Regions from separate parts of the Homo sapiens genome. Here all the other regions are linked to region 1. Evidence: fine-mapped expression QTL. A gene starts in region 1. Each other region holds a variant in brackets. All regions are shown on one strand. Distances are between the middles of the regions. Region 1 holds the start of ITPRID2 (ITPR interacting domain containing 2). Region 2 overlaps ITGA4 (integrin subunit alpha 4). Region 3 has its middle 29 kb from the start of ITPRID2.

The links. PIP is the estimated chance that this variant, and not a neighbour inherited with it, causes the effect.
Region 2: its variant is fine-mapped to the expression of ITPRID2 in tibial artery (GTEx, PIP 0.95).
Region 3: its variant is fine-mapped to the expression of ITPRID2 in whole blood (TOPMed, PIP 0.97).

Annotation. Positions count from the first base shown.
Region 1 is chr2:181,890,135-181,892,902 of GRCh38, reverse strand. ITPRID2 (ITPR interacting domain containing 2) reads right to left here and starts at 1,173. Exons shown (of 18, transcript NM_001130445.3): 1 at 626-1,173; 2 at 243-288. The coding sequence starts at 836. RefSeq lists silencers at 537-676, 967-1,296.
Region 2 is chr2:181,535,449-181,538,216 of GRCh38, reverse strand. It overlaps ITGA4 (integrin subunit alpha 4), which reads right to left. Exons shown (of 28, transcript NM_000885.6): 28 at 1-2,768. The coding sequence ends at 2,690. It overlaps CERKL (CERK like autophagy regulator), which reads left to right. Exons shown (of 13, transcript NM_201548.5): 13 at 1-1,545. The coding sequence ends at 33. Among named protein-coding and RNA genes, the nearest start is that of ITGA4, 79 kb to the right of the region's middle. The variant G/A (reference allele first, on the strand shown) is at 1,556.
Region 3 is chr2:181,861,588-181,864,355 of GRCh38, reverse strand. No RefSeq gene overlaps it. Among named protein-coding and RNA genes, the nearest start is that of ITPRID2, 29 kb to the left of the region's middle. The variant C/T (reference allele first, on the strand shown) is at 1,112.

The DNA.
Region 1 (2,768 bases):
CTAACACGATGCGTGAGTAGCTCAAGTCCTAACTGTAAAGTCAACACGGTCACCAAATAATCAGCGGTCACAGCACTTCCATTTCTAATCGCTTAGAGGAGGAAGCTATCCGCCGGCTCACTTTCCGGTTTGTAGCTTACAACGGTCGCGGGACCCACAGGGACGCGGCCCGAGTGGCTCTGCTCCGGCGTCCCGTCCGCACGGATCTCCCCCGGGACGCGGGCGGACCAGGGAGCACTCACCGGCAGTCCTTGAGCCATATCGCGATCTTCTCGTTGGGCACGTTTCCTGGGGGTAGAGAGAGGGGACAGCACGTTACCACCCAGGAGCACTACGACGGCGGAGTCACCCTGGACCCTCCCAAGTAGGAAAATCTACCACGGCAAATGCAGCCTAAGCGACACGTCTCAGTGTCCCTTGGCAGGGAAATCGGATGGCACCCAGTTGTCTGTGTTGACGCTGGGGGCGCCTCGTTCAGCGCGCGCGTTTGAAGGTCGGAAGTGTCCCCTCTCCCCTCGGCCTACCGTGCCCGAGGCTCTCCCAGAACTCGTGGCAGGCGCCCAGGGCGCACGAGACTCTCCCCAGCCCACCAGCCTCCCCCCGGAGCCCGGCCGGGAGCACCGACCTCTTCCCCCCGCTGCCGGCAGCTGCGCGCCGGGGAGGTCCTCCTCCTCGTCCTCCTCCTCGTCCTGCGTCGTCGCTTCTGTGGACAGATCCTCCGTCTCCGACGCTTGCCAGGAGCTGCGGCACTTGGCCCAGGCCTTCCTCCTGCGACTCGCCACTTGCCACTCCAGTTCCTCCTCCGCCTCCGCCGACGACGACAGGGGCCGGTCCATGGCCGCACTGGGGGCTCCGCTACCCCAGCCGGACCCTGCGCGAGACAAGGCGGCGGCAGGGACCCCCGCCCTTGCTGTCAGCGCCCGGCCGGGCAGGGGGCCCCGGGGAGCTGAAGCGGGCGCCGGAGGAGGAGGAGGAGGAGGAGGGGACAGGGAGGGAGGGAGGGAAGGAAGGGGAGGGAAGGGGCGGAGGGCCGGCGCTTCACATGAAGGCGGCCGGGCGCGCGCGGGAGCGCTAGTGGCCCGAGGGAGCGCGGCTGGGAGCCGAGCGCCCGCCCGGCCCCTGCTCCCCACCCCCTGCCTGACGCGCCCGGAGCAGGCCGGCCGCTGCGCGTCTGCGCGCCTTCCCTCGGCGGCGGCCCACGCCCCCTTCCGGCCGGGGCCGCGCGGGGCGCGGTAGGGCGGGGCGCGCCCGGCGCGACGCGGAGCAGGCCAGCCCCCGACTACTGCCCGCGGAATGGGCAAGATTAGTTTGTTAATAATCTTTCCTCCTCTCCTCCTCCTCCTCCCTCACCTAAAAATAGAACGTAAGTGGGGAGGCCAAGTCTCACAAAACATCCCCCGCGAGAAAACAAGTGTCTGCTTGGGCACCCTGAAACATACACTTGAAAGAGTCGCCTGAATATAGACTCTTTAGTGTCCAAGGAATTGGGGTAAGGACGGAAAGAGGTGCTTGATTGGTGTTGCCAAAATGTAAAAACTGCAAAAGACTAAGCTTCCTGGAGTGCTACTTTCATACTTAAAGTTATTTATCGTGTTTATGTTATGAATGAAAATGAATTGTGAAAGGATATTTAATCTGGAAATTTCACATTGAAGTTGGACTTTGGTGAGGGAGAATAGAGGAAACAATTGGGACAATGTGGAGATAGTTGCTTGGATTTTGGTGAGACAGCATGATACAAGAAACAAATGATGTCAGGGTTCAAAACTTTTTAAAGCCAGCTTTGGCATTCCGTTTTGTTATGTTTAAATTCTCATTAGCAAAAATACTCAAATTCTATCCAAAACCAGACACAATGTGACAGACCTATCAAGCAGCATTGTTCCCCTAAATGTTACATCTGAACTATACATATAAGTAAGGCTTCCAATATTTTATTGTACTTGGCTATGCTCTGAAGAACAAGTTAGAACACTTTTTAAAATCTTAACGTGATTGAAAAGAATATTTTGCGTAGACAAAATATTTTAAGGAAGGAATTATTTTTCATTTGAAATTAAAATCCAGAGCATAGTAAAATTCCTAATGGAAGCATTCGAATTACAAGGTAATTAAGTGCATTGTCATTGATAGCTACAGGAAACCATAACTTTTGGAGAATTTGGAATGAAGAATGCTCTGGAGATGAAATAGTGCCTAGTTTTTGTCCAGGCATTTACACATAAGTCATAGACTACTAAAATAGCACACTGATTTTCCTGCCTTCATTCTTTCCTATCTCCTTTCTAGCGCATTGCTCTAGATTTACAATTCCAAGACATCTTCTAATGGTTTACTAATATCCCCAAGATCAAATCCAAAATCCAGACTAGCTTTCCAGAACCATCATAATATTCTCCTGAGTCTCATCTATGTACTGCCAAATGTCAGGGGAGTTAGAACAGTGATATTAATATCTCTATGGCTTGAAATTTCACTACTAGAAAATCTTTTCTTTGAACCTATAAGACTTTCTCAGCCTTCAAGGGTCCTGTAGTAGGATGCAGCTAACAGTTTAATGGCTCTCCAAAATAGGTCAGAGTCTCGCTGCCTGTGTGGAAGATGAAAAAGAGAATGAATAAAGAAGGTACCTAAGAAGAAGCATTGAAAGGGCTGGTCAAGTGCCACAAAATATGCTGCCTTCAAAGTTTTATCCAGGGTTCTTACGTATCCACCCTGTTCCTCTGCTGCTCCCAGCTTCAATTCTATCATATCTAAGTGCTGTTGCC
Region 2 (2,768 bases), 350 kb after region 1:
GGAGGAAGCATGGAAGAAATGATTCCAAAGTAACATGTAATTGTTTCTAAAAGAAATGTACAAACTAGAATTTTAATATAAAGAAATGTGGCCATGCTTTAAACCTGTGGTCCCCACCCTTTTTGGGACCAGTTTCATGGAAGACAATTTTTCCGTGGATGGGGGAATGGTTTCAGGATGAACTGTTCCACCTCAGATCATCAGGCATTAGATTCTCTTGAGGAACATGGCACTCTAGATCCCTCACATACCAGTTCACCATATGGTTCGCACTTCTATGAGAATCTAATGCTGCTGCTGATCTGACAGGGGGAGGAACTCAGTAATGCTCCATTGCTCTAACCTCCTGCTGTGTGGCCAAACGGATATCCTAATAGAAATTGATGTTACTAACAATTAGCCTCTAGGGCTTTAAAAGTCAAGATGAAATATCAATTCAAATTCTGTTTTTAGATATCAATTCAAATTCTTTTTTTTACAATGTGTTTATTGGACACACAAAAAAACTTTGCAACCATCATAATACATCAATATTTAACCTAGATAATTCTGAAATAATTTGGATTCTTTCATTTTTCAGGATTTGAGCTCATCAATTATGTTAAATTTCCTATATTCTGTTACAAATATAATACAGATTTCATAAGTCTGCCTTGATTCACTGCTCCCTAATCCAGAGCAGTTAAATTTCAAAATCACATAGTTATATAGCCTACCTGCCAAAAAAGAATAACCCATCCCTGTCTTCTTAAAGTGGTAGGGTTTTAAAATTCATGATACAAGTAACAAAGTAAGTTGATAACAAATACTATTTTGAACTGGGCAAAATCTAGCCCAATATGTAATTGTGTTCCCCTTGTATCTGAGAGGCCTGTGTTGGACAACCATAGTACTCTGCTTTCACTGTGCTCAGATAACCTGAAATATATAGTTGTTTCTGAGTAGTTCTGAGTAGGAAAGAACCAAATGTAAATTTCCTTAGAGACCATCCTGGAGAAGACAGTTCTAAATCGGGGCTTGATTTTTCATCTATGATCCTAGATGTTCTCCTGAAAGAATGACTAGCCTTTTTATAACGATACAAAGTTTTTTAAAAATACATAAATGTCATAAAGTTTATTCCTGTGTATACACACTCTGGGTTCAGGAGGTTTTGTGCTTACATTTCACTACTCAAATGCCTTCGCAAATCTCAGAACATTCCTCACCATCACTGCAGGCCTGTGAACAGATAACTTTCATCAATTAGGATGGCTGGCTAGTGGCAGGGACTTCATATAAAGAAATCTTTCCCAGAATTGTTTTTCCACATTGCCTTCTAATTTGATCACTCCCTATAACAGATGTTCAAAATTCGGCCACAGCTCTCTTATGAAGGCAGAGTCAGATAAAATGATATTCTGCAATTATCTAGATCATAAGCATAAAATAAATATTACAAAAATGATTGTATTTAAAGAAATTTTTTAAAATCCAGAAAGTCATTTAAAATAGAACCTCATATAGTATGAACAAACTATAAAAATATTTTACATTTCATGAAAATTTTGCTGTC[G/A]TCTCATTTATATTCACTGTATACAAATTGAATCAGTATCTTTCAGCTAAATTTATGAATTTAAATTTATGAATTTTGTTTCTTCGTTTCCATGTAAGGTAACACTTATACTTGTAAAGGGTAACAAAGAATTACATCCAAGGAAATAGTTGTGTGATAGTCAATATTTTACATAGTACATAATACATATGAAGTATAGGCCCCCTAGTCTTTGCACAGCTTTGATTTTAAAGTTATTAGTGAGGTATGGTTTCTGTATTTTCTAAATCAGCGTGTATCAGGTAAAGTGCAACACTCACAATCTTTTGTTTCAGAATATAACAAAAGATTTGAAGATTACTCCTGGGTATGCTTGATAAAGGTGTGTTATAGGAAGAATAGATAGGAAGAATGGTAAATATATACCTACATAAAAACACATGTATATATACAGAAAGAAAGATGGTGAAATCCATAATTATAAAAAAATAATTATCCAGAAGTAATTTCACTAAGCTCAAACCAGTGTACATGTTCAGTCTGAAGTTTGCCAGTTTGGCCTATAATACTATAATATTCATAGTCTGCTGAAAAAAAATGGTTGTTGGAACACAGCCCGTAGGAAATGTATTATAAATAAAGGGCTTTAAAGTGATAATGGTCCACTCGTTAGAAAATTTGGGAACAGCTCTCTAAAAAATTATATTTTTAAAGAACATATTTTGAACAAGTATCAAAGATGTATTTGAAATGAACCTCTGCCCACCCAGTGGGGTTCATTTTACTGAGGCAAGCACATATGGTAAGTAGTATTTCAAGTCTAAGACTTCTCCAGTATAATTTAACTCAGTTATACTTTCATTTCAAGATATCTTCAAGGGCTTACTTTTCTTGAATAAATTGAATGCTTTAGTGTTTCTCTACCCATTTAAAAGCTGAGAGATTATCTTTGGCTGTATTATTACCTTTGCAGTTCTTCTATCTCAAAGAGTAATCATTGCTGAGATTTTCCCCTTGCATGAAGACATAATATGTCACAAGATCATGAGTAAAAGAAGTCCAAACAAAATTCATTTTTTCTTGTAAACAGTGTCTTTTAAATTTCTTTACTACAACCTGAGTCTGTTTTCCATTCTCTCAATTTGAAAGAAGTCCTTAATCATCATTGCTTTTACTGTTGATATAACTCCAACTGTCTCTTCTGTTTTCTTCTTGTAGGATAGATTTGTATTGT
Region 3 (2,768 bases), 29 kb after region 1:
AAAGTAGGGTACTGGAGAATAAGAGGAGGAATAATTTGACTACAGTCATGTTTCAAATAATGGCAGTATTTCAGCATCTTATGTTTTATAAACAAGAGCAAGATTTCTTTGACATAGAAATTAATATATTCTAAAACCCCAAAAGTCTTATTCTTGAATTCTCTTTCCTCTAAATAACTTCTAAATCATAAAAGATCATGAGTTACTGACTTTCTAAAAATAGTGGGAGCCAGGCACAGTGGCTCATACTTGTAATCTTAGCACTTTGGGAGGCTGAGATGGGAGGACTGCTTGAGCAGAGGAGTTTGAGACTAGCCTGGACCACATAGTGGGACCCTGTCTCTACAAAAAAAAAAATATATATATATATATAGAGAGAGAGAGAGAGAGCCAGGTGTGGTGGCACACGCCTGTATTCCCAGGTACTTGGGAGGCTGAGGTGGGAGGATCACTTGAGCATGGGAGGTTGAGGCTGCATGGAGCCATGATTGTGCCACCATACTCCAGCCTGGGTGGCAGAGTGAGACCCTGTTTCAAAAAAGTAAAAATAAAAATAGGATATCTAATTTAGTCCTATTCAAAATTGTGGATGCCTTCTAAGCATTCAGCAAGAATTGATACACATCATATACCACTTCTTTCTTGAAAGGACATATTAAAAAAAAATTTCTCAAATACTTCATTGTACCTAAAATAATCCTTTCATAATATATCTCCTGTCTATTGAATAAATTAGTTAATAATAAGTTAGTTTTAAACTATATAAAAGTGATCAAAGATGTAAATTGTGGAGCTATCCACATATTAGTGACAATTGCAGTTCAGAAAACGCTAAGGGAGCGAGATCCAATACAGAAGACCAAAAGATTTAGGAATATGTCTTGTAGTATGACTAAATTTAAGATATGGAAAGGAGAGCAGAGGCAGAAGGTTGTGTAATGTCACGGAAACAAGGAAGTGCAAACAATAAGCATGGACTATGGTGGTACATTCAATGGAAGATCTAGGAGAGAAAACCAGAAAATGTTGCTGCGTGTGTGTGCATTCTAGTGGAAAAGCCAAATGAGTAGGAGAGTAGTAAAATTGTTGGGTTTTGGCATTCGTCTCACAC[C/T]CACAATTTACAACATTTGTTTGGTTCACAAATGCAAGTAACTACAAATCAGCCCTCACCTTCATTCTGCACCCTGACTATGTATATAGTTTGCCTAAATTCTCAGTGCAGCTGACCATGTATCATTGTGCCAATCACAATTCAGAAACCTTTTTTTTGTTTGCCAGGTATTGTTTGAGCGTGAAAAAATAAAACCAAGTGACGCAAGTAGGCTTTCTGTGGCCGTATTGTTTGCTGAAGCTATGATTGGATAAAGTCCAGTAAAACCTTTAAGATAGGCTCAGATATAAATAAATAAGCAATGTGTATTTTGAAAGAAACTTGTGGAAGAGTCACATGATTCCATAGCTTTAATTGACCTTAGATATCAAAGCTCAGCCCCTCATTTGCAAAGAAAAATTTTAAGGCCAATAGGGGTTAAATGACCTGCTCAAGCTCACTAAACTAGTTATTGACAAAGCTAATAGAACCAGAAGCCAGTGGAATTCTTATTCCCACATTCCCACTCCATTGTTCATTTTATATGCCATTCCACCTTCAAATGAATTCACAAAACTCCCAGATGCCAACAGTTTTAGCTCAGAAAACAGACATACCCAATCTAGTGGGTACCCAATCTATAGACCAATCTAGTGACAATATAAAAGTACCTTTACTCTGAGACATTCTGAAATTAACATTCACTACAATTCCAAACTGAGTTTTGAGAAGTAAAATTTTAATCAAATATTTAATATCAGCTGTTAAGCAAATTGGTTCAGTTGAAGAACTTCCCAGATTTTATCTAGCTGTTGTTTAGTTTCTCAGGTTAGAAATGAGAAAACACTTTGATAACCTTTCCTATTAGGACTTTGAAAAGGTTTTTATGATAATAAAATTCACATTTAAGAACAGGGACATTTTTTGAAGACATATAATTTTGCAGTGAAACAATATAGATAACACTAGCTCAGCTCTTGTTAGGTAAGGCCAGTTAACATTTTCTCTCTGTTTCTTTCCCTCTCCTCCTCTGACTCTGCCCTTGATGAGTAAAACGATCCCCTAGAGATATTAAAATATGGGACGATATTATTAACTGTTTTAAATCCTGGTGGTCAGTCTGTCATCCCGTGTAAAGATACTTGCTGCTTATGGTAGGAATAGCATATGATGTGAGTTTATTTGGTTTGATCAGTATTTACAGTTAAGACATCATTGTGTTTTTTGCAAGACAATTTCATTTCGGCCCTAACTAACATTAACAACACCTTAGCAAAACAATCCAAAGTAACCCAAATCACACACACACAAACACACTCCAGCCTTTTTGCAACTGCCAGGTACCTGCAGACAAACAAAAATGGTCACCAGATACTCATTACATCCTTAAAGATTCATCTTTTAGGCCTATATGAACAGAGAAAAGACCATATAAGTACTATAATATACTAACAGATAATGTAATTTAGAATAAGAGCTAATTTATTTTCCCCAATTTTTTTTTAAGAACTGCTAAGGTTTTCTGCAGTTCATTTCTTAGGTGGTTGTGAGGTTGCCCAGACTAAGACAAAATGCACAGGAGTCTAACTAGCCAGGTAGGAGGTTCTGGCAGTCACTGACTTAGAGAGCCTCAGGAAGGCTATGGGAGGTAGAGACAAGGCTGGGAGGGGCACAAAGT